Homo sapiens: one gene and its partners. The protein of the gene in region 1 interacts with the protein of each later gene in a pairwise test. Each region holds a gene or a part of one and is shown in the gene's direction. Other genes may lie near its edges.

Region 1 (8,096 bases):
ACGCCTGGCTAATTTTTGTATTTTTAGTAGAGATGGGGTTTCGCCATGTTGGCCAGGCTGGTCTCGAACTCCTGACCTCAGGTGATCTGCCTGCTTCATCCTCCCAAAGTGCTGGGATTACAGGTGTGAGCCATCGCACTGGCATAAATACAACTTGTTTCTACTCTGAGAGTAGTGCCACAGCCAGCAGGGCCAGCCTGGGTGTTGGATCCCGGCTCTGTCATTTGCTGCCTGGTGACCTTCACCAGCACATCAGCCGTCTTTGCCTCAGTTTCCTGTTTTTGAAATGAGTGTAACAGCCTGTCTCTCTCCTCCCTCCCATCCTGTGACATCTTAGACAGCAGAACGTGAGGCTTGGGTATCCTGCTGTCTGCATACCCTGCGCATTTCATTTGTTTCAGTTGAAGCCGAGAATCCAGGCCACTGGTCTCCCTCTAGAAGCCGGTGCTGTTCTAATTATAGGCTCCTGGGTGCTGTTTCCTGGCCCTGTCTGTGGCCTCCAGTAACTGTGACTGTGAGGAGCCCTATTTTCAGATGAGGAAGTAGCAGAGAAGGGTCAGGAGCTCACTCAAGGTCACTCCTGGTTCAGAAGCAGAAAGGACCTGGGCCCGAAGCTCAGGCCTTGGTGACCATCACAAAGAAAACATGGCGTATCCTCTCCCCTGCCCCTCCATTTCCCTGTACCCTGAGCTCTTAGGGACGGCCAGGCCTGGTCCTGGTTGTAACCACCTCTCCAGTGAGGATCTCTTACATGCATACCCCGGCTGGTGGGTGGCATCCATGTCTGCAGTAAGCTGTGGGCTTAGGTGGGCCCGTCGGTGTGCTTCCCTCACCCCTTGCTGGCCTTAGGCTGTGTGTTCACCTCTCAGAGCTTTCCCTGTCTTTTGCGCCCTGGTTTACCATCTCCAAAGCCCTGGAGGCCTTCTTGGCCCTGTTTTATAGGTGAGGAACCCGCTGCGGGCGTAGTGTGCACTTGGCCTGGCCCCGGCTGGGCACACAGTAGGTGCTCAGTGTCCCACCTAGGACCACACAGCAGAGCCCCAACAGAAGCAGGGCTGGAGCCCAGGTCCCGGCTCCCAGGCTGGGAAGGGTGCCGGGCCTCAGGTGCAGCACTGTGCCACCTCTGGAGGTGGGAGGGGGCGGGATGCTGGTGGTGTGCTGTCCTGGGCAGCAGGGGACAGGCAGGGAGGAGCTCCTGGCTCGCTCTTGCTCTCCTAATGCTGGCCTTTGCTCCCTGCAGGGTCAGGATAAACATGAAGAATATTTTGCTGAGAACTTCGGCGGCCCAGAAGGGGAGTTCCACTTCTCAGTCCCGCATGCAGCCGGAGCCTCCACAGACTTCTCTTCAGCCTCCGCTCCCGACCAGTCAGCGCCCCCATCCCTGGGTCATGCCCACAGCGAGGGCCCAGCTCCTGCCTACGTGGCCAGTGGACCCTTTAGAGAAGCCGGGTTCCCCGGCCAGGCCTCCTCCCCTCTGGGCAGGGCCAACGGGAGGCTCTTTGCAAACCCCAGAGACTCATTCTCTGCCATGGGCTTTCAGCGAAGGTTCTTCCACCAGGACCAATCCCCTGTTGGGGGCCTCACAGCCGAGGACATTGAGAAGGCCCGGCAGGCTAAGGCTCGCCCCGAGAACAAGCAGCACAAACAGACGGTGCGTATGGGAGGCCCCTGGAGGGCCGAGGTAGCTGCCACCCACAGCAGTGATGGCCTTGGGCTCTGCTCTAGGGACTTTTCCTGGGTGCTGTGGTCTGGGGTTTTTAGGAGCGTGGTGGCCTTCTCTTGGTGGAGTGTGCTGTCAGGCGGAGCTGCTGACTGTGGGGTGGAGAGGAGATGTGGGGGCAACAGGAGCCTCTGAAGGTTGGTCCTGTCCCCTTGGCTGATTCCACAGGTCTCTTTCTCGTCTCCCTCCAGCTCAGCGAGCATGCCCGGGAGCGGAAGGTGCCTGTGACGAGGATTGGCCGGCTGGCCAACTTCGGAGGTAAGGTGGCTGTGTGCCCCTGGACTGCCTCACCTGCCCTGCCTGGGCACCACGCTGCGGCCTGCATGGAGGTGGGGACCCAGCAATATCCCGGGGAGGGCGTTGGGGGAGCAGGTGGCGGTGGCCGCCCCTGCATGAGCTTTTGGGGAGCTGGAGTTTTTCATGGGAGGATGATTCAGTTACTGGATTCCAGCTCTGCCTGGCTCTCCCCTGCGGGTTGGTACAGGGCCGATGCTGTGCCAGGAGCTGAGTTTGGATTGCCCGGCAGGCCTCGCCTGGAGGCGGTGTCTGCAGCATCTCTGTTTCACCCCTGCCTCAGGTTCACTACCAGTCGGCTGCTTTGGAGGCCTCTCAGGAAGGAGGCTGGGCAGTGAGGAAAAGCTCTTCCCTGGGGCTGTTCAGCAACTCAGCAGGGCTTTCTTTCCCCCTGGGACCAGACATTTAGGGAGCCCATTTGCTGGGTCCCCACAGGCCTGCGGCTCATGAGTGGAGTGACAAGATGCCATGGCCTCCAGCTGCTGCTGTTTAAAGCCGTTTGTCTGTACTTTGGGGGGTTGAGTTGTCATTGTGCCCAGTACACATGCGCTCTTTTTATAGAAGTTGAAGGGTGATTTTATAGTGAAGGTTTATAGCAGTTGTGTCTGCTTTGATGGCATCATGTTTGTCATGCTGCTGCTAATGCGCTGGCCCAGATGTTCCTGTTAAAGTGCCATCTCCTTTGCTGTGGTACACTCTAAGTTAGTTACTGGGATTGCATTTCTTTAACACTCAGCTGTCCTCAGTAGGTTCTCCAGGTGATATAATTAATGGAAGCCACAGTTTTGGTGGCTTGATTTGGACCCTGACCTTGGGTGAGTGGTTAGTTCCAGGGCTGTAGGCAGCAGAGGTCTGAGTGGTCCATGATGGTGCTGGTGCTGGGTGGGGCATGGAGATGCACTCTCATGGGTCTGCCTGTCTCTTTGCTGGTTTATGTTTTTCCTCCCATACACCATCCATCATACATGCTGTTCCTCCGCTCCTGCCTATTCTCTTTTGGAAACCCCATCCTACTTGTTCAAGACTGGTTCTGGGCAGAGGCTCACGTACTGTGCTCCCCGAGAGCCTGGTATTCTGGGAGCTGCGTAATGTGTGTGGGTTCTGACATTGAATGATGGCTGGCCCCCCTCTCCAAGGTGCTGAGCAGACTTGGTTAACTGGATAGAATTTTCTCAGCAGTAAGGTTTTCTTTCATAATTTTTACCTTAATATTTGGCATCCACTGTACTTAGCCATTCAGGAATTTAGTATGAAGTGTCATCTATGTGACAGCCAAGAGTATTTGCTTATTTCCTTTTCCTGGGGTAACATTTCAAGCAGTCCCTCATAGAATATCACACCTCCCTGAGTTCTGCTGTCAGAATGAGTTTGAGAATCACTGCCTTGGTGGCCTCTAGTGGTCCTTATCCCCTGGAAGACTTGGCATGTTACTTGCTTTGCACATTGGCTTGTCATTGGGTAACATGTATTATTTCTTATTAAAATATTGAATGGAGGCTGTCTTCTTTCCCCATGATATTGAGGGCAGGAGCTACCCTGTTTTCACATCGGTACCTTTTCTCTGTCCCCTCCCTCTTCCTTTCACTCTAGACTCTTGGTGAGCCTGTCCCTGGAAGGCTGAGTTTGACGTGTTTCAGGACTGGTGCAGTCCTCACTTCGGAGTCTTTGTGGGGTGGGGAGAAGCGGTAGAGCTAATGCAGGCTGTTAGGGAAAAGTGGTCAGAATGAAAGTCTTGATGGTGAATTAGAATCTGGTGGAGCACCACGAAGTCCTGGCGAAGGAGGCAGTAGTCAGACCCTTTTGGGTGACGGGTTAAGGAAGACAGAGACTGATGTGGAAGGGGTTATATATAGGAAGATGTGTAGGAAGAAAAAGGTAGAGAGCTCTCCTCAGAGGGTGGGGGATTATGGGTAGCCAGAGGGAGCCTGGGTTAGTGGAGTTGAAGCCCTAGTCTTGGGTGCTTTGTAGCATCAGAAGCCTCTGGAGCCTTTGCTGACACCTGCCTGATGTACGGAGCCATCTGTGGGTGTCTGTGTGCTGGAGGATTGCCCACAGCTATGATTCAGAGATGCTCATGTTGTTGCCCAAGCAATTGACAGATGATGTTTCAGGCTTGGAGATGGCAGGATGGGAGCAAAGAGAAGCCAGGTCAGGAAAGAACGTGCCGTTCTGGCCCTAGTGGGGAATTCTGGGCCTTCTGGCTCACCCAGTTGAACCTTTCAAACTGTAGGTTATGACCCTTTAGTAACTGTGAAATTAATTTAATGCATCAGGATCAGCATATAAAAAACAAGTTAACTGTAATCTCAGCACTTTGGGAGGCCGAGGTGGGAGAATCACCTGAGGTCAGGAGTTTGAGACCAGCCTGGCCAACATGGTGAAACCCCAATTCCTACTAAAAAAATACAAAAATTAGCTAGGTGTGGTGGCATGTGACTGTAATCCCAGCTACTCGGGAGGCTGAGGCACAAGAATTGCTTGAGCCCAGGAGGGAGAGGTTGCAGTGAGCTGAGATTGCGCCACTGCACTCCAGTGGGGGCGACAGAGTGAGACTCTGTCTCAAAAAACAAGTTAAACAGAATGGAATTCAATAGAAAAGATTAGAATTAATATCGTACATCCTTACAATGAACTATACACATGGCAAGATATTTTAGTTTCAGAGACATACATACTATTTAAGTATGTTCTTCACTACAATGTGAAATATATAGCTTACTGGTGGGTCATCATCCAAACAGTTTGTAGTTGCACTGTTGCGCTTTGTTCTCCTAGAAAATACCTCTAGCCTTTCTTCCCTTCATGGAGGAAAGGTGTTTTTCAGGTGCAGACTGACAGACTTTAGGAAGTTTTTACACGGGGTTATGAAGGAAAGGGATTGCTCTAGGTCTCAGGGAGGTAGGGCTGCTGCAGGGACCCAGACGGGTTTTCAGCGAGGTTGGCAGTAGGTATTCAGCTATATAGAAGTGGAAGTCAAGGACTTTCCAATTCCAGGGGCTCATTTTGATGCTGAAATGGGGGCGGGGCATGAGTCCTAAGTCCAATTTGGCTATGGGACATTATGACTGTGATGCTATGGGCAGGATGATCTGTGGATATTAGATTTTCTTAAAGAGTGGTGTGAAAGAAAGGGTCATATATTGGATATGGGGTCAGAACTGAACTTTAGTTCATCATAATAGCTGTCCTTTGATTACAACTGTGCTTCCAGTGTGACCTTGGGCTCTACCGTGGTTTTCTCTTTTGTAAAATAAGGGTCTTGCCGTTGATTCCAAATGGGAATATTTTGGTAAATGTTCCATGTTTACCTGAAAATAATTCATGTTGAGTGCAGTGATCCGTCTATCTAGTCTGGTTTATTATTCATATTGATCAGATTTTTAAGTGATTTTGGTTTGCTTATTCAATAAGCTATCGAGAGAGGCATTAAAAAGTCTGCTATGATTGTGGATTTACCTACTTTTAGTCTATTGACTTGTGCTTTATATGGTTTGAAGCTATGTTATTTGTTGCCTACAGATTCAGAATTCTTTTTTTTTGTTTGAGACAGAGTCTTGCTCTGTCGCCCAGGCTGGAGTGCAGTGGCACAATCTTGGCTCACTGCAACTTCTGCCTCCTGGGTTCAAGTGATTCTCCTGCCTCAGCCTCCCGAGTAGCTGAGACTACACGTGCGTGATAAGTCTCGATCTCCTGACCTCATGATCCGCCCGCCTCGGCCTCCTAAAGTGCTAGGATTACAGGCGTGAGCCACCGCGCCCGGCCAGATTTAGAATTCTTCTTATATCCTCCTAGGGATTGACCCTTCATTCTTATGTTATGCCTCTTTTCATCTCTGTGAAAGTCCTCATTGTCTGATATTACTATAGCTACATTCCAGCTTTGTTTTGGGTAATGTTTGCATGTTACCTTTTTTTTTTCCCCTGTACTTTCAACTTTTAAAATGTCCTTATGTTTAATGCATATCTATGAGCAGCATATATAGTTGGTTTTTTGTGTGTTTTAAGTGTAGACTGATAATCTTACAATGAGAATATTTAGTCCATTTACATTTAAATGCAATTGTGGATGTATTGGAGTTTATATCTACTACCTTAGTTTTTGTTTGTTTACTATTTGACCTGTCTGTTATGTCCCCCTTTTTCTCACCTGTTTTGCCTTCTTTTAAATTAATCAAGGACTTAAAATTATAGTCATGCGTCTCTCTTTTTTTTTGGAGACAGTCTCGCTCGGTCACCCAGGCTGGAGTGCAGCGGCGTGATCTCGGCTCACAGCAACCTCAGGCAATTCCCATGCCTCAGCCACTCGAATAGCTGGAATTACAGGTGTGTGCTGCCATGCCCGGCTAATTTTTGTAGTTTTAGCGGAGACAGGGTTTTGCCATGTTGGCCAGGCTGTTCTTGAACTCCTGGCCTCAAGTGATCCACCTGCCTCAACCTTCCAAAGTGCTGGGATTAAAGGCATGAGCCACCGCACCTGGCCCTCATGTGTGTCTTAACAAGGATTCAGTCCGAGAAATGTGTCGTTAGGCAGTTTCATCATTGTGTGAACATCATAGAGTGTACTTACACAAACCTAGATGGTATAGCCTGCTACATGCCTAGGCTGTATGGCATAGCCTGTTGCTCCTAGGCTACAAACCTTTACAACATGTTACTGTACTGAATACAGTAGATAACTGTAATACAACGGTATTTGTGTACCTAAACATAGAAAAGGTATAGTAAAAATATGATACAATCTATCACTGTCGTATATGCAGTCCGTTGACTGAAATGTTACATGATGCGTGACCGTGCATGTTCTCTCTTTGTTAGCTCTTATGTTTTACATTCCTTTACGGTTCTTTTGGTGATCACTCTTGAGATTACAGCACGCATCTTGACTTATTACAATATAAAAATAAGTGATTATTTTTACTACTTCTCCAATGATGCTAATACCTTAGAACACTTTTTAGATATTAAGATATATTAAACACCACAAGAATTATTTCTTTGTACAGCCCATATGAATTTAGATTTACCCACATATTTGCCCTTTTTTGTGTTTCTTTCTTCCTGCATTTCTATAATTTTATTTGGTATAATTTTCTTTTTCTCTGAGGAACTCTCCTCTCTCTTACAGTGTAGTCTGTTAATCATGAATTCTTTTAGTTTTTATTTATTTTTTATTGATTTATTTTTTGAGATGAAGTTTTGCTCTTGTCACCCAGGCTGGAGTGCAATGGCGTGATCTCGACTCACTGCAACCTCTGCCTCCCGGGTTCAGGTGATTCTCCTGCCTCAGCCTCCTGAGTAGCTGGGATTACAGGTGCATGCCACCACACCCAGCTAATTTTTGTATTTTTAGCAGAGATGGGGTTTTGCCATGTTGGCCAGGCTGATCTCGAACTCCTGACCTCAGGTGATCCACCCACCTCTGCCTCCCAAAGTGCTGGGATTACAGGCATGAGCCACCACACCCGACCTAGTTTTTATTTTTTTGAAAATGTCATTATAGCTGGGCACGGTGGCTCATGCCTGTAATCCCAGCACTTTGGGAGGTCAGGGTGGGTGGATCATGAGGTCAAGAGATCGAGACGATCCTGGCTAACACGGTGAAACCCCATCTCTACTAAAAGTACAAAAAGTTAGCTGGGCGTGGTGGTGGGTACCTGTAATCCCAGCTACTTGGGAGGCTGAGGCAGGAGAATCACTTGAACTGGGGAGGTGGAGGTTGCAGTGAGCCAAGATGGCGGCGTTGCACTCCAGCCTGGATGACAGCTCCATCTCAAAAAGAAAAAGAAAAAAAAGAAAAAAGAGAATATATCATCATACTTTATTTTTTTAAGGTATTTTTGCTGGGTAGAATATTCGATGTTGAAAATGTGTTTCCTTTGATCACTTTAATAATATTCCTCTATTGTTTTCTTACTTTGATTGTTTTTTTGAAAATGTGGCTATCAGTTATATTGCTGCTTCTTTGAAAGTTATGTCTTATTTCTTTTCTCTGGCTGCTTTTACGATTTCCTTTTTGTTTTTGTTCTCTAGCAGTTTGACTGTGACATGCTTGAGTGTGGTTTGCTTTGTATTTATTCTGCTTG
Region 2 (7,955 bases), on another chromosome or scaffold:
TCTTCAGAATATTCTATCCAGTGCTCCATTAATTAGGAGATTTTCCACTCTGAATGGTGGAAATGTGAACTATTCCTGGTCCTGCATGAATTCCTGGGATTATTCCACTGCTCCTTTGGAATGTTTCTGCCCTGGCCTTGGGTAAGTTAGTCACCTTCATGTGCTAATCAGCACTCAATTGAAGATTTAATAAAGGGGACCTTTGCTGGCCTCCCAGTGTTTATCTGTATGCAGCTCTTTTCTCCCCAGTACTCTGTGAACTCTAGCTTGGTTGGCCTCCTCAAATTCCCAGCTTCACCACCTCATCTCATGGAGACTGCTAGCTTCCACCAGTGTCTCCCCTCCCTGTGCTCTGAAAACTCTCCCCAAGCTGGGGAAATCGCAGGGCTCACCTCATTTTTTCCCATCTCCAGTGGATCACTGTTCTGTGTTACCTGAAGTACAATGTCTGAAACTATTGTTTCATATATTTCCTCTGGGATTTCAGCTGTTTTGTGCAAGGAAGGTTAATCTAGTCCTGGTTATTGTATTTTGGACTGGAATTACTTGTTGCTGTTTTTGATGATAAGGGAAGCATGCATATTCAAAGAGAAAGGCTGTGTATAAAGCAAAAATTGAACATTGAGGAGACAGAAAAGAAAATTAAGAATGAATTTCCTAAGAAAAATACAAAGGGGAAATGATAAAAAGCTGAGATGGGGCTCAACTTTGCCTAGGAAAAGAAACACTTCTTATGAAACATGAAGTAGCATAGGAACAACGATGAAGCATAGAAATTTAGATGCAGTGTTCACTTCGTCAGCTGATTTTACTTGAGTTTCTATTATATAATGTGAATAAAACTCAGCTGTTTCCTCCAGTGGGGAAGAAGGGGATGGAGGAGGGGAAGAGTGAAGTGTGATTCCCAGCACGGTGCCTCCCCACTCCACTGCCAAAAAAGAAATCTTTCCAAATCCTGTAACTCCTGAGCTTTTCATATTCTTGATAGAATTGTGGGTTTATAGATTGTCTAAGGAGATCACAGTCGGGCCACTTTAAAACTTCTGGTGGTCTGATTCACAGCTCATGTTGGTATCTGATATCTACCATCTCCTGGTGCCTCCACTGAACTTTTTGATTTAATACCCTGTTACACAACACTAGCAAGCAATAGGAGACAAGTAAAAACACAATTTCAATTCAATGATATACGTTCTCTGTGTGGATTATGCACAGCAGGTTATAGAAACACACTGGGTGACAGGGGGCCCTACATAATCTTGAATGGGCAGAGAAAGGCTGCCAGAAATATCTGTCCCTGTGACCCAAAATATACAGAAAATAGGTTGAGGATATGGGAGTGGTAAGAAGAAAGGATATCCTGCAAAAGAGAGGAGAATGTGTAAAGGTTGGAGGCAGGAGGTATTGAAGATGTAGGTGGATCAACAAGGCTGGTGAGGTGGGAGGGCTCATCAGAAGCCACTTGCCAGAAATACCTTGAATGCACTCCAGGGCATCTGTAATTGATCCTGAGAAAAGTAAGGAATTGGAGGCGTTTTAAGTAGAGGGGTGACTGATAAATTTTCTGTTGAGAGATCATTCAGATAGCAGTGCAGAGAATATAAGAGAGGGAAATTCACTGTCAGAAGCATATTCCTTCTGAGAAGAGCATTCACTGTGAGAGGGATAGTGAGTCAGAACAGTGGAATGGAAAGTGCATATATTCTAGAAAATAAAATGGTAGAACTGCCAGAACCTGGTGACTGATTAAATATGTGTCATGAGAAGGAGGTACCAAGGGAAACACCCAGGTGTTTGTCTTGGATAACTGGATTGATGGCAGTGTGAAACAAGTATTACTGGCTAGATGTCCTAAAACTTCTTGTAAGCTAAAAGAAACTATGGAAGGGTGGAACAGTCTAGATTTGTTTTCATTCGCTGAACATAAGCCTACTTGTGACAGGCACAAGGACAGGTAAAACAAAAGAAGCTATGGGATAAGAACTGAGAGAAATATTGCCAGGCATGGGGGTGGCAGTGGGGGAGGCGGGGGGAGGTAAAAGGAAAATGACCTTTTAGGGGATTAGATCACATGAATTAGTAGTGGAACCAAGAGTCTTCATTATGACCTTCTTTCAGCAACCCTGGGCAGTGTGATGAATGATTCAGAGAGGGCAGATGTAGATTGTGGGTTGAACTCTAGCTGAAGAATAAGGAACGGTGAGAGTAAGTTTAGAGTCAAGTACAAGATGGGAAGAAATGTGGGATCAATACGAGCATCACGAAAATGCCTTCCCATAAGCACAGGCTGGAAGGGGAAGCTAGAAAAGCTAGAATGGGGCCAATGAGAGAATGCAAGGGATGGTAAGGCTGGAGGCCAAAGAATTGGGGATGAAAGAGAGAAACCAATAGGAGACAGTCATCAGAATGTCAGTGTCCAAGAGAATGGAAGCATAAAAATTCCCAATAATAAGGTGAGAATTTATTGACTGTAGCAAGTCGTTTTGAGTCAAGATCATTAAAAATATAACAACATGAATGTTGACATTCCATAAAAATGGAGTCCAAAGGAAGTCTATGAGCAGGGTTAAAGTTATGCTGGAAGTCAGGAACCACCGGAACAGGTTGGGAAAAGAGCAGAAAGTTGAAACTGTTAAGAGCTCATGGTTAGTGTCCTGGAGGAAGAGGCAGAGGAGTGGGGTGGAGTGGAGCTAAGTGCGTTTTCTTCCTTTGATTTTAGAGGTGTTGCCTTCACTAGAAGGAAACTGGTATTATCAAGAACAAACAGGTGTTGGTAGCGATCATAAGAGAAAAAAGTGTTCTAGAAAAGAGTTCTCTTTCAGCCAGGCACAGTGGCTCACACCTGTAATCCCAGCACTTTGGGAGGCTGAGGTGGGTGGATCACCAGGTCAGGAGTTCGAGACCAGCCTGGCCAACATAGTGAAACCCTGTCTCTACTAAAAATACTAAAATTAGCCCGGTGTGGTGGCAGGTGCCTGTATTCCCAGCTACTCAGGAGGCTGAGGCAGGAGAATTGCTTGATCCCAGGAGGCAGAGATTGCAGTGAGCCAAGACCACACTATTGCACTTCAGCCTAGGAGACAGAGTAAGACTCTGTCTCGAAAAAAAAAAAAAGTGTTCTTTTTCAAGCAGATAATATGTTACAATAACAGAGCGCTCATTGACAACCTTTTTCATGCCACTGGTCACTGTGGAAGCAGGAAGGAGAGGCAAAGCAAAGATGGCTGAGGATATGCAGTACAGCAAGGAGGGTGCAGTAAGAGACCCAGTTGAAAGTGTTCTCCTAGGTGGCAATGCTAAAATAAGCTCACTTGAGGCTCTTCTGAATCATTAGCCCTTCTAGAAACTCCAAGGACGTATTAAATTCACTCACTAAAATATTTTGGGCATAGCGTAGTTGCTGATCATCTCCATGATTACTTCTTTGAAGTCTTTCCTTTGAACATTTTTTAAGTGCTTACTGAGAATTCTTAGGCAGAAAATAAAACAGAAAGATCATCCCGTGCCAGAGTCTGAATACAGACAGGGCTCATCGATCAAACAAATCCATGCAGAAAACTTAAAATTTCCTATTAAATAAACACCACACATTAAATATCAGAAAGTGGTGACTAAGAGGTGGGGAGAGGAGGGATATACAGAAGGTTTCACCCACACCCTGTTTTGTGGTTTTTACCCGGATGCCACAACCACACCTATGAGTTTCACTTATTAAAATAATAGAGAAGTAGAGTAACTAGAATCTGCTGAGCAGAGCATAGTGCTAAATACAGTTCCTCAGAGACTGAACCTGACAGGCAAGGTCAGGATTCAACTTGGAGAATGTCTGATGAGATTAGCCAATGTTTTTTTCCAACGTGGTCTACCTGTGTGTGCTGATGCATGTAGATTTGGTAGATTTGCTCATCTTTAGTAGACGAGAAAATTAAGCTCATCTCCTCTGTTGAACTTACAAAATGTTGACGTTAAAACCAACGATAAAATGGAGATAAATGGGGATAAACTAGAGCAGGAAATTCGAACCATACATAGACTTAAAAAAAAAATCCCCTTAAGCCATTAAAAGGCAATAAGCAATTAGTTTTATACCAGTGAAATCAATAATTAAAAGTTCTACTTAAAAAAATATAACCCATGCAACATCGTGTGTCCACTGAGCAGTGATAGGCGCCTGTGTAAGGAAAAGAGCTCTCATCATATCAGCTAGCATTTAAGGAGCTTACTGTGCGCTCAACTCTTTTCATGTTATATGATCTAATGTGAGCATCTATGCCGGTGGATTTCACATCCCCGTTTCACGGACGAGGACACCTCCGGTGACCTGCAGGGACCCCGCGCCAGTGGCTGCTGCAGCTGACTCATCCGACTCCCACGCGCGACGCTGCCCTAGTGGCGTTTAAAAAAATCCCACTCGAGTCCCATTTAAAACATAAGCACCCCACTTTTTAAGTGTGACTGGTGACCTCGATTTTACCTTCTGAGTCACAGCACCAAGACCTGTGTATCTGTCAAACTGAGCACAGTGGGCGAGGGCGCGCTGTGAGAGCTGGGGAGAAGACAGGTGGAGAGCACAGGTGCAAACTAAGGGGAGGGCTAGAAGGTAAAAATAGCGATCAGGGGTATGGGGGTGCGCATGGAGACGCCCGCGGAGCGCTGGCGCTGGCCAGCGGAGCAGGAGGTGAGGTCGGCGGAGCTGGGAGGACCGCGCCTGGCGGCTGCAATAGCCGCACCTGTGCACGTGATCGCGAGCGGCTCGGGCGCCAGGGCGGAGCGGCGCTCACCTGGGCCCACGTGACGGGGCGGGGCTCGAGGAGCCCCACGGCCACGCCTCCTCCCGCGCGGCGCGCCCGGAGCCCGCGGAGCTGAGCGGCGGCGGCGGCGGCGGCAGGAGCCCGGGAGGCGGAGGCGGGAGGCGGCGGCGGCGCGCGGAGACGCAGCAGCGGCAGCGGCAGCATGTCGGCCGGCGGAGCGTCAGTCCCGCCGCCCCCGAACCCCGCCGTGTCCTTCCCGCCGCCCCGGGTCACCCTGCCCGCCGGCCCCGACATCCTGCGGACCTACTCGGGCGCCTTCGTCTGCCTGGAGATTGTAAGTGGGGCCGCCGGAGCGAGGGTCGCGCGGGGAGCGAGGACAGGCGGCGGCATCCTTGTCCCCCGGGCTGTCTTCCTCTGCGTCCGCCCCCGGCCTCCTTCCCTTCGACGTGGCTTTGTCCTGCGCTCCCTCCCGGGGTCCTCTCGGTGCCCCGCGCCGCCGCCCGGGCCCTCCCTCCTAGCACCTGTTACGCGGGCACCTGCTCCCCCGCGGGCGACGGAAATTGCCTGGGGAGGGCGAGTAGGCGGCCCGGCAGGGCCGAACATTGGGGACGTGGAGGAAAGAAAGGTGTTGGGGCTCAGAGGCGCCTTTAGAAACCCAGGGCATGGCCAGGGGCCGCGCTTGGCCGGAGCGAGCTCCTGGCTCTCGGCCTCGCCTGTTGCTAACCTGCCATTTTGTTGGGTGGTGCAAAGGTGTAGCCGATGACTGGGTGACCTGGTGGCTGCCACGCTGTGGAAAGTGGGGGCGGGAGGCAACAGGAAGAGGAAGAGGGCTGAGGACTTGAACATGCTTTTTCCCCACTCACCCTTGCCATCATTAGTGGCCTTTGGATTGGAAAGAGGAGCTGGGCAGGAGGCAGGGCAAGGAGAAAGGTGAGTTATGTGCCATGCCCTGGGCAGTTTCTAATCCAGTGGGTGTGACAATGGTGGGGGAAAGATGGAAACGTGGCTCTCGAGTTCTTCTCTGCCTGCCTTTGCACCTTCTCACTTCCTGGCCTCCTTACGCAACTCCAAACCTTTTTAGCACACTTTGTTGGGCCCAAGTAAAGGTGGGGTTACCTGCCTGTCGTGCAGCCTTTTTAGGTAGCACTTGAACTTTTTAAATGGAATTTTATGGAGTTGGAAACTTTCGAAGCTCCTTGTGGACAAGTAGATAATGTGCAAATATAAATTGGGCAACCTGAGGTTGCATCATGCCTGAGAATGGCAAATAAAAAGTGAAATGTTAGCGAGTTAGTGCCTTTCCGGCAGGCTGGTATTGTTTGCTCGGTTTAGGATTTTCATCTCTCCCCTCACCCTGGCCTTTGAGCTTGCATAACCTTTATTTGGGTCGCTTTGGTTTCACTTTTGTGCTTGTGGAGCTGGATCACCTTGTGAGCACTGTTCTATTATGCTCAGGTAGCCACACCACCCTAAGTTAAGTTTAGCCCGGATTTGAATCTGAAAGAGGAGACGTGAGTGAGTTGCAGGCTATGACATCAGTAATGGGATCCTGACTGCGAGGCTGGTTTGAGTTTGAGCCTGGTTCAGAAGCATCTGAGTGCTTGGGATGAGGTGCAGGCATCCATGTGGGAAGAGCGGAGAGACGATGGCATTGGGCTGGCTGCCTTGCTGTGGGAGGGAGACACGTTTAGAACTGGAAGATCTGCAAAGAACGATTTCTTAGGTTCTCGGCTACTTTATTCCATGTTCTGCAAGCTCCAGTTTTTTGCCTACCTCTTTGAGAAGTTTTTGCCATATCCGCATTCCACCTGTACTAGAATTTACAGACAGTTCATTGAAATACTTTCTAAACTTCAGTACTTTTGTCTTTTCTTAAGCAATAATATACATGAAATTTCAAATTTGATATTCTGGTTATATTTTTCTAATGTTTATTCAAATATATGTATGTATGTATGTAAAGATACATGTATGTGTATATGTAAATATATATACATGTGTATATGCAAAGAAGGCTTATCCATATGCCCTCTAATCAAATACCATCTCAAGAACCTGTAGTCATGTCAGACTTTTAGGAAACAAGGCCTAATTCTGGGGGAAAAGAATAGAAAGTGACTTAGTCAATTTCCCCCTCCCCCTCCCCATTATATCTTTTTTAAATCTAGCCCAGAGGTTAGTTCTCAATTCTTGCTGTACTTAATAACTTGAACAGCTTTTTAAAATAACTGTTACCAGCCCAGACTAATTAAATCAGAATCTCTGGGGGAGTGCCAGAGTTCACTAGTTATTTTTTAAAGCTTCCCTGGTGATTCTAATATTCAGAGCCTAGAGAAGACAGCTCTGCTTTCAGAGATGTGAATTCTCTCTATCCGCTAAAACTGCCACCACTCCCCAACCTAGGAGGGATTCCAGACTCACAGAAGTGTCCAATCTAATCCTCTTATCTCATTTCCTCTGGCTTCTTACATCCTGAAACATGTCTCACACTCTTGGCTACGTAGAACAGCATCACTTCCAAAAGCTTATTAGTTTGCTTCTCTCTTTTTATGGCCAACTCAATAAGTTTACATTTTAGGCCCCCTTTATCTCCTTTACTTGAATATCAATCTCCCCCACCCCATTGAAAAATGACCAAAATGTTCCAATGAAACTGGTGACGTTAGAGAAACAAAACAAGAGACCACACTAGAGTCAAACTATAGCTCCTCGGCTCTCATCCTTTAGGACTGTTTAGAGATATTGGTTTACATGCTTTAAGAGAGCAGAGATCAAAGCTGGCTTGTTACCCCTCCATTTAGAATACTCATCTTGAGTGGATGTACAGATAGAAGCTAAGTGAACACTTTTGAAGCAACTTAGCTCCTAGATGTCTCAATTTCCATCTAATTTTCTGATTCTTTTAAAATTGGCCATCTCCCATGGCTCCTCCTCAGAAATTCCTCAACCTGTAAAGTAAATGTGAGAATTTCCCAGGCACTGTCCTAAATGCTAAGTGATCTCCATTCTGGGGACCCATTATTTTAACCTCTGCCGGTGTTTCTGGATATCCTCAAACTCCATTTTAATTTTGACCTTCTGTTCAAATTCGTTTGTCTTTAAGAGTTCTTCATTTCTGTCCCATTGCCTTCTGAAACTTAACATGTGAAAATTGTACCTGACAAAGGAGGACTGGGCTATCAACAGTTGACTACGCTATTGACA
Region 3 (8,096 bases), on another chromosome or scaffold:
GCAGAAGGAACATGAGGACATAGTTCAGACAAACAGGAGGGTCTCAGTAGAGCTGTGGAAGAGGTACAGACAAGCCCAGGTGGTTGAAGACAGTAAATGGAAAATCCACTGAGAGGAAGGAGCTGGAAGGCGTTTCCAGCCCAAGTTAATTTTCAAGAAAATAAACAGTGCATATTTTGCTGACATTACCCATCCTCACTGCTCAGAGGTGTATAATAGCACTTTGAGAATGGGCTGGTGCCGTTTTGTGACTTAAACTTCTCCCACTGAATAGGAATTTCCCCAGAGCTACAGTGAGGGTGGAAAAAAGAGGATCTGCAAGAGGAAGTCCTGTATTCTTGGCACTGTGACTTGTCCTCTATTTGTTTTCGCTTTTACAGCAGTGAAAATAGCCCCGTGGGTGAGGCGGTCTATCAGGTAAATAGACTTCCTTAGTTCTGTGTTTCTTTAGCACACATATTTTTGACGTCTCCCGGGTCTGTTTGGCCACCCATGGTCTGTTCTGAATTTGATTGATGTTTACTTGCCTAAGAATTGTTATTTGAGGTCAAGTGGCATTTTCCAGGGTCCTCATAATTTCATCTTGTTGTTTGAGCCTGTATTGATTGACACTCTGGACACAGGTGACAACAGCTTTGTAGCTAATGAAGTTGTCCCTTGGCTGCAGGTTATTTCAGTAGAAGAATTGTGTAATTTCATAGAGCTTAAGGCATGGACACAAGAAAGGAACCATTCTGGAGGGTGTCTATGTGATGGTAATTCTCTGCTCACCTCGCAGTAGGTAGGAGTTTATATACCAGGATCCAAAGCTGGAGGCTTCAGAGAAAATAATGTTGGAGAATTTAAGCTATTTAGCTCATGGAGCCTTAGATTTAATTGACAGTGTGCCTCAGGTAAGTTTAAGAGCTTAATGATGTCTTGCCTTAAACTTGAATCCATGAGGTTATTCCTAGATGATGCACTGATAGTTTGAAATTTTTTATTAAAAAATATTAAAGTGTGGAAGATAAAGAAGAAAGGCATAATCTTATAGAACGAAACAACTACCACTGGCTGTCCTTATCGGGCGGCTTCTGTCTTTTGTCTTTGTGCCTGTTTTCTATGAAATTGTCATCAGCGTTCATACAATTTTGTATCCTAATGCAGTCTCAGTCTTATTAATGATCTCCTTGCACTGTTTGATGAAAAACTGTGATTCACGTGGAAACTAGGGATGTGGTTTCACCAGGAGTCCAGAGGAAAACTGCCCACTCTGATTGTGGGGGAGCAGCCCAACTCCCCGATGGAAGCATTTTCCATTCCACAAATCACTGTGATTTGTCATTACGCCATGCTTGAACCTGGCTTTAAGATTGTGGTAACTTTATCTTTGACTTGTGGGACATACCGCCCTGCAGAAACAGCCTGAACTCAGAAGATGGAATTGGCACACATTTCTCTGAAATATTTCACTCTGAGCTTCTGTACTTTTACTGAGGTCTACTGAAACTGGAATTTGTTTGGGATCAAATAACCAAAGGCCAATTTCTCGCTTCCTTTCCCAAAGAGCTGGAGGTCCGGGTTTCCCCTTTTGTCTACCTTCCTGCTTAACCATTTATGGCTTAAGACGCACCATTCACCTTGAACATTTTCAGGAATGATAGACAGGTTAAATTCCATGACAACAAAAACCGTATTGCAGAATTATTGTAGCTTAAAACCTGCCAGGTGACCCTCCTTAGTTTAAGAATTTTAAGCAATATTCAATTTAATAAGTGTACAATTTGGATAGTTCCTGAAAGTTGATTATAGTCAGGATCCACTGTGCTCCCATTATTGGAAATAACGTTTTTCTCCAGAGACCCTAAAAGACCAGACCTTTTTGACCCTCGCAGCTGGTTCTCTTTCTTGTTTACAAACTAGGCTATTTTCTTAGGGGACCTGACAATTTGCATGTGAGTGCCCTTCTTTTGCCTAAGGAATCCCTTTTTTTATTCTGGGGTCATTTCTGCGATATACATATTCATGGGCCTAGCTTAGTGTTTCTTTTCTGGGGGCTGGGAGATGGAGACCAGAGTAGAATTGAATATTTCTCCTTTTTCTTCCTGGAAGAATCGATCTTCGAGGATTAAGTTGGTAGTTAAAAAGCCGCTTTATCTTTCTGAAGGCCTTGCCCTTTTATGTGTTGATCTGATACCCAAATGTAGAAAACAGTTCTATACACAGCTTGAGGATATATTTTTAGAAGAGTTTACCACCCACATGTGGCTAAAGCTTTGTGGGGAGTTCTTTTTTTTTTTTTTTTTTTCCGTTGTGAGTGAAATAGATATTTCACTATATCTTGCTCTTGTTTTCAAACCCTTTAAAAAGCCATTGACCATTTTCTCTTTTATTTTTAGTTGACACATAATAATCATACACATTTATGGGATAAAGAGTGATATTTTCTTATATGTCTCCAGTGTGTAATTGATCAAAGAGTAATTGGCATGTTCATCACCTCAAACACTTATCATTTCTTTGTGTTGTGAGCATTCAGAATTCTCTCTTCTAGCTATTTGAAAATATACACTGAATAATTGTTAACCATATTCACCCTACAGTTCTACAGAACAGTAGAACTTATTCCTCCCATTGAACTGTAACTTTGTACCTATCAACCAACCTCTCTCTAGCCTCTCTTCCCCTCCCCTTTGTAACCTCCAGTAACCACAGTTCTTTTCTCTACTTCTGTGAGCTCAATTTTGTCGTCCTTCCTTTGTGGAAGCTGTGAAATACCTTTCGAGGGGAGTGCGGACTTGTGGTCAGGTGTAAATATGCATTCAGCTGGGCAGAGTTTGGGAGATTCCTTTAAAACCTGTTCTTTTGCTGAAATTCTAGGTATCTTTTTATTTTATTTTATTTTTTATTTTTCACCTCATCAGTTAGAAGTGTCAGAAACTCTCCTTTACCCCCCACTTAGTCTTTGGCATTTAACCAAAATATACTTTATTTACTTATATATTTTTTGAGATAGGGCCTTGTTCTGTTGGCCAGGCTGGAGTACAGTGGCGTGATCACAGCTCCATGCAGCCTCAACCTCCCTCTCGAGCTCAAGCCATCCTTCCACCTCAGCCACCACACTAATTTTAGTGGTTTTTTGTTGTAGAGACAGGGTTTCGCCATGTTACCCAGGCTGGTCTCAAACTCTTGGAGTGAAGTGATCCATCCATCTTGGCCTCTCAAAGTATTGCCATTACAGGCATGAGCCTCACCCCAAAGCACTCAAATTTTGTTTTTTTAAATTGAACTTGAGTGCTTTGGGGTAAGACCTGCCTATTCCATTTCACCTTATAGTTTTTCTTACTCTTGGCCTATGTAGGGGAGAGAGAAGACTTTCTTTCTGCCTTCTGAAGGTACCATAATTGAGCCTATGAAATAAACTGATGATAGATTAACGGATGAAAATACATACAAATTTATTCCATGCATAAATGTGGGAGTCCCACAGAAAGTGAAACTCAAAGCAAGGTCAGATAATTGAAGTTTATGTAGTGTGCCTGAGCTACGAAAAAGGAATAAGCGGCTGGGCGTGGTGGCTCATGCCTGTAATCCCAGCACTCTGGGAGGACAAGGCAGGAGGATCGCTTGAGCCCAGGAGATCAAGACCAGCCTGGGCAACATGGCAAAGCCCTGTCTCTACAGAAAATACAAAAATTAGTCTGGCATGGTGGCTCATGCCTGTGATCCCAGCCACTCTGGAGGCTGAGGCAAGAGGATCGCTTGAGCCTGGGAGGTCGAGGCTGCAGTGAGCCGAGATAGTGCCACCGCACTCCCGCCTGAGTGACAGACAAGACCCTGTCTCAAAATAAAAAAGAAAAAGGAATAGGGGCCTGGGGCTCCTGGAGGCAGGTGGTGATAGGTTATAGAAGGGTAAGGGGAGGAAATGTATGGTGAACAAAGGTTGCCTTGTTAATGCAGATAAAAAGCCTCTTGAATGATGAAAGTTGTCTCAGAGTAGCCTCAGAAGAGCAGGTGATGGCTTGTGACCAGGTGTCGACCTTCAGTCTCCTCTCCTAAGTTAAGATCTTCCAGCCAGGCACGGTGGCTCACGCCTGTAATACCAGCACTTTGGGAGGCCAAGGTGGGTGGATCATGAGGTCAGGAGTTCAAGAACAGCCTGGCCAACATGGTGAAACCCCGTCTCTACTAAAAATACAAAAATTAGCCGGGTGTGGTGGTGGGCATCTGTAATCCCAGCTACTCAGGAGGCTGAGGCAGGAGAATCACTTGAACCTGGGAGGCAGAGGTTACAGTGAGCTGAGATCACACCACTGTACGCCAGCCTGGGCCACAGAATGAGACTCCGTCTCAAAAAAAAAAAAAACTTCACTGGTTGATGAGGGTCCTATGATAGTCACTTTCCTTTACACAGATCAAGTATCTCTTCTCTGAAATGCTTGGGACCGGAAGTGTTTCAGATTTTGGATCTTTTTTTCAGATTTTGAAATACTGCATTCTACTTACTGGTTCAGCATCTCTAATCCAAAAATCCAAAATCCAGAATGCTCCAATGAGCATTTCCTTTGAGCATCATGTCTGTGTTCAAAAAGTTTCAGATTTTGGATTTTCACATTTGGGATAATCAACCTGTAGATTTCAATTTATTGTATCAAAGGGCAGCTTTTCAGAGCTGCTCCTGTGTCTGCAGTTTCTCAGAATAATCAGCTCAATATATGCCAAAGAAATAGATCCTGAGGTGACATGTTCTAGTCTCCTGCAGTCATATTTTGGGGTAGTGTGTCCTGAGCCCCATCACCTATCTGACTCATTTATAAGTGGGATCCCTGAAAGTATTTAAATAAACTTTTAATTTTGGCATAATTTTTGATTTGCAAGAAAGTTGTGAAGTTAGTACAGGGAGTTCCTCACCCAGTTCCTGGTTCTCTCCATTATTCACATCTTACATCACACAGTATGTTTGTCAAACCAAGAAACTGATGAGGGTATGTTATTGTTCACCAAACTCCAGACTTTATCTGGAGTTCCCAGTTCTCCCACTGATGTCCTTTTTTTCTGGGCCAGGGTCCTAACCTAGGGTACTACATTGCATTGATATATTTTATTTTATTTTATTTTATTTTATTTTATTTTATTTTATTTTATTTTATTTTATTTTATTTTATTTTTTGAGACGGAGTCTCGCTCTGTCGCCCAGGCCGGACTGCGGACTGCAGTGGCGCAATCTCGGCTCACTGCAAGCTCCGCCTCCCGGGTTCACGCCATTCTCCTGCCTCAGCCTCCCGAGTAGCTGGGACTACAGGCGCCCGCCACCGCGCCCGGCTAATTTTTTGTATTTTTAGTAGAGACGGGGTTTCACCGTGTTAGCCAGGATGGTCTCGATCTCCTGACCTCATGATCCACCTGCCTCGGCCTCCCAAACTGTGTTTTATTTTTTTGAGACAGAGTTTTGTTCTTGTTGCCCAGGCTGCAGTGCAATGGCACAATCTCAGCTAACTACAACCTTGGCCTCCCGGGTTCAAGCAACTCTCCTGCCTCAGCCTCCCGAGTAGCTGGGATTACAGGCACGCACCACCACACCCAGCTAATTTTTGTATTTTTAGTAGAGATGGGGTTTCCCCATGTTGGCCAGGCTGGTCTCGAACTCCCGACCTCAGGTGACCCACCCGCCTCGGCCTCCCAGAGTGCTGGGATTATAGGCATGAGCCACTGTGCCCGGCCCCACATTGCATTTAGTCATCTTGTCTCCTCAGCCACCCTGGCTATGTTAGTTTCTCAGTCTTGCTTTGTTTTTCATAACCTAGATACTTTTTGAAGATGAGGGATTCTGTAGAATTTCCCTCAAATCAGGGTTGTCTGATATTTTTCTCATGATTACAGTGGGGTTGTGGGTTCTGGGAGGAGAAGACCACGGAGGTGAAGTGTCCTTCTCATCCTGTCACATCAGAGGGCACATGACATGCACATGACATTGCAGATGTTAATATCAAGGGAGAGAGTAAAGTATTCCTGATGTTAATTAATATCAAGAGAGAGAGTGAAAAGGAGGTATTTGCCAGATTTTCTCGCTTGTAGTTTACTGTCTTTCCCTTTTCATAGATGGAGTTTTGCTCTTGTTGCCCAGGCTACAGTGCAATGGTGCGATCTTGGCTCGCTGCAACCTCTGCCTCCTGGGTTCAAGCAATTCTCCTGCCTCAGCCTCCTGAGTAGCTGGGATTACAGGCATGTGCCTGTATATAGACATGTTTCCCCATGTTGGCCAGGCTGGTCTCGAACTCCCGACCTCAGGTGATCCACCCGCCTTGGCCTCCCAAAGTGCCGGGATTACAGGCATGAGCCACCACGCCTGGCGACTCTGTTCTTTGAAAGAGAGTCAAGGAGTCCAGCCCACACACAGGAGAGGAAAGGGAGAGATTAAATTCCACCTCCTACGAGGTGCCATGGCTCATGCCTATAATCCCAGCAGTTTTGGAGGCTGAGGCGGGTGGATTACTTGAACCCACGAGTTTAAGACCGGCCTGAGCAACATATTGAGACCCCCATCTCTATGGAAAGTTAAAAAAAAATCGCTGAGTGTGGTGGTGCACACCTGTAGCCCCAGCTACTCAGGAGGCTGAGGTGGGAGGATCATTTGAGCCCAGGAGTTGAAGGCTGCAGTGAGTTACGATCAAGCCATTGCATGCCAGCCTGGAAATAGTGGAATGAGCAAGACCCCATCTCTACAAAAAATAGAAAATTAGCTGGGCTTGTTGATGCACACCTGCAGTCACAACTACTCGAGAGGCTGAGGGAGGAGGATCGCTTGAGCCCAGGAGGCTGAGGCCATAGTAAGCTATGATGGTGCCAATGGTGCCACTGCACTCCAGCCTGGGTGACAGAGTGAGACCCTGTCTCAAAAAAAGAAAATAAAATAAAAGTGCATCCCCTGGAGAGGGAGTATCTACTCATACTATTTGGAATTTGTCAGTGAGGAAGATTTGTCTTTTCTTGTTTAAAAAATAGACACTTCTGGCCAGGTGTGGTGGCTTACACCTGTAATCCCAGCACTTCGGGAGGCTGAGGTGGGTAGATCACTTGAGGTCATGAGTTCGAGACCAACCTGGCCAGCATGGTGAAACCTCATCTCTACTAAAAGTACAAAAACTAGCCGGGCGTGGTGGTGGGTGCCTGTAATCTCGGCTACTCGGGAGGCTGAGGCAGGACAATTGCTTGAACCTGGAAGGTGGAGCTTGCAGTGAGCCGAGATTGTGCCACTGCACTCCAGCCTGGGCAACAGAGGGAGACTCCGTCTCAAAAAAAAAAAAAAAAAAATAGACACTTCTAATGAGCTGATGCCATAGATACCCTGTCATAGATGGGATAGATGTGCCATATGGGCACAGGAGACCTCAGCTGTGCAAGGATGTCAGATGCACTTGGCTTTCTCAAGCCCTCGTGGGGAAATATAGATCACATCCCTTCCCCTGGGGTGGGCAGAGAGTAACGTAATATGGTCCAGTTAGGGAAATATTAATAGAAGCTAACTTGCAGACAGGAAGCAATTAGGATGCAGGAGGAAGACATATGTCATCAAGGGCTAGATCATGTGGTGTCAGCCAGGGGATGTGAAACAGGCATGAAAAGCGCTTGACAGGCAATGTCCACCACCACCCTGTTCCCACATTATCCGTAAGTCTTGCTAAAGGCAAGATTGCTGTTTTCTGGAATTTTCAAAGACAGACAGTTGGACTACCTGCAGTCATCTGGAATTTGGCCAGAACAAAGGAAGTAAGCAAATAGAAGACTCCCAAATAAGGTATATATTTATCATCAAAGCAGATGCCCAAGCCTGTTTACCTCACTCAGAGGAGGCGCCCACGGCAACTATGAACTCTTACTTTACACAGAGTCCTTGCACGCTGGGTTCTGCTGGTGTCCAAGTCCTCAGAGGCTTTGAAGTAGCAAATTGTGTTGGTGGGATGGAGCCGCCATCAGCCCCATGTTGGACTGTTGGCAGCCTGGGACCGTGTAGAACCACAGATGTGGACACAAGCATTTTTCCTTTCCTTTCTCTTTTTCTCTTTCTCTCTCTCTTTTTTTTTTTTTTTTTTTTTGCAGATTGTAAGAAAGGAGAGGGG
Region 4 (4,914 bases), on another chromosome or scaffold:
GTATTTTTAGTAGAGACGGGGTTTCTCCATGTTGGTCAGGCTGATCTTGAACTCCCAACCTCAGGTGATCCACCTGCCTCAGCCTCCCAAAGTGCTGGAATTACAGGCATGAGCCACTGCGCCTGGCCTAATTTTTGTATTTTTAATAGGGTTTTGTCATGTTGGTCAGTCTGGTCTCAAACCCCTCACATCAACTGATCTGCCTGCCTCAGCCTTCCAAAGTGCTGGGATTACAGGCGTGAGCCATCGCACATAACTTCCTTTTTTTTTTTTTTTTTTTTTTTTTTGAGATGCAGTCTCACTCTGTTGCCAGGCTGGAGTGCAGTGGCGCAGTCTCGGCTCACTGCAACCTCCGCCTCCTGGGCTCAACGATTCTCCAGCCTCAGCCTCCTGAGTAGCTGTAATACAGGCACATGCCACCACACCCGGCTAATTTTTTTTTTTTTTTTTTTTTTTGAGACGGAGTGTTGCTCTGTCGCCCAGGCTGGAGTGCAGTGACGTGATCTCGGCTCACTGCAGCCTCCGCCTCCCGGGTTCAAGCAATTCTGTCTCAGCCTCCCGAGTAGCTGGGATTACAGGCACCCACCACCATGCGTGGCTAAATTTTGTATTTCTAGTAGAGACGGGGCTTCAACATCTTGGCCAGGCTGGTCTTGAACTCTTGACCTCGTGATCCACCTGCCTCGGCCTCCCAAAGTGCTGGGATTACAGGTGTGAGCCACCACGCCCGGCCAATTTTTGTATTTTTAGTAGAGACGGAGTTTCATCATGTTGGCCAGGATGGTCTTGATCTCCTGACCTTGTGATCCACTAGCTTCAGCCTCCCAAAATGCTGAGATTACAGGCGTGAGCCACCGCGCCCGGCCAGCTTCCTTTTTTTTTTTTGAGATGGAGTCTTGGCATGTTGCCCAGGCTGGGGTGCAGTGGTGCAATCTTGACTCACTGAAACCTCCACCTTCCGGGTTCAAGCAATTCTCCTGCCTCAGCCTCCTGGGTAGCTGGGACAACAGGAGTGTGCCACCATGCCCAGCTAATTTTTGTGTTTTTAGTAGAGACAGGGTTTCCCCATGTTGGCCAGGCTGGTCTCAAACTCCCTACCTCAGGTGATCCGCCCCCGCCTTTTCATCTGTGCATGCACCTAACCTATTTGGGTGCGTGCACTTGGCCTCTGAGTGTATCTGCATTTTCCCCCCTCATATCCTAATATCTGCTAGTTTCCTCTGTAATGTGCCTGCCGTGTGTGTGTGTGTGTGTGTGTGTGTGTGTGTGTTTCTGTGTTTCTCCCAACCACCTCTGTCAGTCCACTTTTTCTCTTGGTGTTCTCTGTTGATATTTTTCATATGTTGAGAACCACCAGCCTTTCTCTCTCCCTCATAAGCGTACGTGGGGTCGGGGAGGGTGGGGGACTGAGGCTCCTCCCAGTTTGTCATCCCATAGCAGTGCCCACGTGCCTTCCAGATGTGCTGCCTTGGGGGAATTCAAGTCCAAACTCTAAAATACATCTGTTGGAGCCGGGCACGGTGGCTCACACCTAAAATCTCAGCACTTTGGGAGGCCCAGGCAAGTGGATCACCTGAGGTCAGGCGTTCGAGACCAGCCTGGCCAACATGATGAAACCCTGTCTCTACAAAAAATACAAAAATTAGCCAGGCGTGGTGGTGATCACCTGTAATCTCAGATACTTGGGAAGCTGAGGCAGGAGAATTGCTTGAACCCGGGAGGTGGAGGTTGCAGTGAGGCGAGATCACACCACTGCACTCCAGCCTAGGTGACAGAGCAAGACTCTGTCTCAGACAAACAAACAAACATCTGTTGGGCCAGGCATGGTAGCTCACGCCTGTAATCCCAGCACTTTGGGAGGCTGAGGCAGGTGGATCACTTGAGGTCAGGAGTTCGAGACCAGCCTGGCCAACATGGGGAAACCCTATCACTAGTAAAAATACAAAAATTAGCTGGATGTGGTGGCAGGTGCCTGTAATCCCAGCTAAAATCCCCCCAAAAATAAACAAATAGTAAAATGTGACATTTACTAGCATTACTATGTGTTGGGCACTGCTGTAAGTGTCCCCCATCAATTAATTCTTTAAATCCTCATTTCAACCCAGGAAACACGGATTCTAGCTCTTCCCATTTTATTTTATTTTTTTTTTTTTTGAGGCAAGGTCACTCTGACACCCAGGCTGGAAATGCAGTGGTGCGATCTCAGCTCACTGCAACCACCGCCCCCCAGGTTCAAGCGATTCTGCTGCCTTAGCCTCACAAGTAGCTGGGATTACAGGCATGCACTGCCACACCCGGTAATTTTTTTTTTTTTTTTTTTTTTTGAGAGAAGGTCTTAACCTGTCACCCAGGCTGGAGTGCAGTGGTGTGATCTCGGCTCACTGCAACCTCAGCCTCCCAGGTTCAAGTGATTCTGACCTGCCTCAGCCTCCCTAGTAGCTGGGATTACAGGCACCCGCCACCAAGCCTGGCTAATTTTTGTATTTTTAGTAGAGACGGGATTTCACCATGTTGGCCAGGCTGCTCTCAAACTCTTGACCTCGTGATCCATCTACCTCGGCCTCCCAAAGTGCTGGGATTACAGGTGTGAGCCACTGTGCCCGGCCCAATTTTTGTATTTTTAGTAGAGATGGGGTTTCACCATGTTGGCCAGGCTGGTCTCGAGCTCCTGACCTCAAGTTATCTGCCCACCTCCACCTCCCAGAGTGCTGGGATTACAAGCATGAGCTACCATGCCCCATCCTGCTCTCTGCATTTTACAGATGAGGAAACTGAGGCACAAGGAAGCCAAATGATGGGGTCTCTGGGTCACCTTGCTAGTAAGTGGTGAGTGGGGAATGCAGGCTGTCCTGCCCCAGAGTCTGCCCCCCTGACTTACCACCGTGGGGATTTGCCCCACAGGCCCCGCTGTGAGTTGGGGTCTCTCCCTGAGCCTATGTTGTGTGCCCCTGCAGATACTCGCAGGCAAGCCAGCTGCCCAGAAGTCACCCAGCGACCTGCTGGATGCCAGCGCAGTCTCGGCCACATCTCGCTACATCGAGGAGCAGCAGGCCACACAGCAGGTTTTGGGGCCAGCGGGGTGGATCTTGGGAGGGGAGAGCCTTGCAGACTGATCTGAGGTCTGGGGTCCCTTTTTGTTGTTGTTGTTGTTGATATGGAGTTTCGCTTTGTCGCCCAGGCTGGAGTGCAGTGGCGCGATCTCAGCTCACTGCAACCTCCGCCTCCCAGGTTCCAGTGATTCTCCTGCCTCAGCCTCCCTAGTAGCTGGGATTACAGGCGCCCACCACAATGCCTGGCCAATTTTTATATTTTTAGTAGAGATGGGGTTTCACCATGTTGGCCAGGCTGGTCTCGAACTCCTGGCCTCAAGTGATCCGCCTGTCTCGGCCTCCCAGAGTGCTGGGATTACAGTCATAAGCCATAGCGCCTGGCCTTCTGGGGTCGTTTTCAACAGCATCTCCCACCCCTTCGCTCTGCAGCTGATCATGGATGAACAGGATCAACAGCTGGAGATGGTGTCTGGGAGCATCCAGGTTCTGAAGCACATGTCCGGCCGCGTTGGAGAAGAGCTGGACGAGCAGGGCATGTGAGGCCAGGACCCTGGGGGTGGGCCAGGGGCTCTCGGCCACCCTGGTGTGTCTGGGCCATCTGGGGCTGATGCCATCCTGTTCTTGGCAGCATGCTGGATGCCTTCGCCCAAGAGATGGACCACACCCAGTCCCGCATGGACGGGGTCCTCAGGAAGTTGGCCAAAGTATCCCACATGACGAGTGGTGAGTCCCCTCAGGGGAGGGGTCAGTCCTGGTGGGGGCAGGTTGTAGGTGGTACCCTCTCCCCGTGACCCCTGACCTTCTCGTTCCCAGACCGCCGACAGTGGTGTGCCATCGCCGTGCTAGTGGGGGTGCTTCTCCTCGTTCTCATCTTACTATTCTCTCTCTGACCCCAGCCCTCCCTGGCAGGCTGGTCCCTTAAGCCTGGGGAGCCACCAAGCACTTTGGAGCTGGCCTCGCCCCCTAGGAGGAGAGGGTCCCTCCTGGGTAGCTGGAGAGTAGAGGGTCCCGCCTGGGGAGCTGTCCCCATGGCTCTCCCCTAGAGCCAGTGGGACCCTTCAGGACCCTGGGCTGGAACCACCACCACTGGTCCTGTCTCAAGTGCACTTAGGGGGTGGTGGAGGCAGGGACACCTGAGACACACCTGTCTCCATTTCCAGTTCCAGGACCCCAAAGCCATTTGCCCCTGTGCCTTATACACGTGCCAACCTGGAAATAAAATGTCAGCCTTTTTTATACGTATTTGTGTCGTGTGGTGTGTGTTGACTGCAAATGCGTGACCGAGCCCTGATTGGGACTCCCATTCTAAGCCACTGCTTGCACAAGTGCTCCAGTGTGTGTGTGCACATGTGCGTGTTCCGGATTTCTTTTTTTTTTTTTGAGACAGAGTTTCACTCTTGTCACCCAGGCTGGAGTACAGTGGTGCAATCTCTGCTCACTGCAACCTCCACCTCCTGGTTTCCAGCAATTCTGCCTCAGCCTCCCAAGTAGCTTGGATTACAGGTGTGTGTCACCACACCCAGCTAATTTTTGTATTTTTAGTACAGATGGGATTCCTCATGTTGGCCAGGTTGGTCTCAAACTCCTGACCTCAAGTGATTTGCCTGCCTCAGCCTCCCAAAGTGCTGGGATTACAGGCAGGAGCCACCGCACCCATGCGAGTCTTTTTTTTAATGGTTTAGGTTCTCTTGATCTTTTTATTTTTATTTATATTTTTTTGAGACAGAGTCTCGCTCTGTCGCCCAGGCTGGAGTGCAATGGCGTGATCTCGGCTCACTGCAACCTCTGCTTCCTGGGTTGAAGCGGTTCTCATGCCTCAGCCTCCTGAATAGCTGTGATTACAGGAATGCTCCACCACACCCAA

Evidence for each region.
Region 2: the proteins of COQ8A (region 1) and MAL2 interact in binary tests that used the Homo sapiens proteins (3 or more experiments, as listed by UniProt).
Region 3: the proteins of COQ8A (region 1) and LITAF interact in binary tests that used the Homo sapiens proteins (3 or more experiments, as listed by UniProt).
Region 4: the proteins of COQ8A (region 1) and STX10 interact in binary tests that used the Homo sapiens proteins (3 or more experiments, as listed by UniProt).

What each region holds. Positions count from the first base shown.
Region 1 is NC_000001.11:226,963,760-226,971,855, forward strand, and holds part of COQ8A (atypical kinase COQ8A, mitochondrial), read left to right. Parts: intron 1-1,240; coding exon 1,241-1,651; intron 1,652-1,911; coding exon 1,912-1,978; intron 1,979-8,096. UniProt on the Homo sapiens protein: Atypical kinase involved in the biosynthesis of coenzyme Q, also named ubiquinone, an essential lipid-soluble electron transporter for aerobic cellular respiration.
Region 2 is NC_000008.11:119,203,520-119,211,474, forward strand, and holds the start of MAL2 (protein MAL2), read left to right. Parts: upstream 1-4,843; 5' UTR 4,844-4,953; coding exon 4,954-5,085; intron 5,086-7,955. UniProt on the Homo sapiens protein: Member of the machinery of polarized transport. Required for the indirect transcytotic route at the step of the egress of the transcytosing cargo from perinuclear endosomes in order for it to travel to the apical surface via a raft-dependent pathway.
Region 3 is NC_000016.10:11,576,511-11,584,606, reverse strand, and holds part of LITAF (lipopolysaccharide-induced tumor necrosis factor-alpha factor), read left to right. Parts: intron 1-7,614; exon of another isoform or gene 7,615-8,096.
Region 4 is NC_000019.10:13,143,436-13,148,349, reverse strand, and holds the end of STX10 (syntaxin-10), read left to right. Parts: intron 1-2,762; coding exon of another isoform or gene 2,763-2,795; exon of another isoform or gene 2,796-2,810; intron 2,811-2,954; coding exon 2,955-3,062; intron 3,063-3,479; coding exon 3,480-3,586; intron 3,587-3,678; coding exon 3,679-3,773; coding exon of another isoform or gene 3,774-3,841; exon of another isoform or gene 3,842-3,863; coding exon 3,864-3,940; 3' UTR 3,941-4,292; downstream 4,293-4,914. UniProt on the Homo sapiens protein: SNARE involved in vesicular transport from the late endosomes to the trans-Golgi network.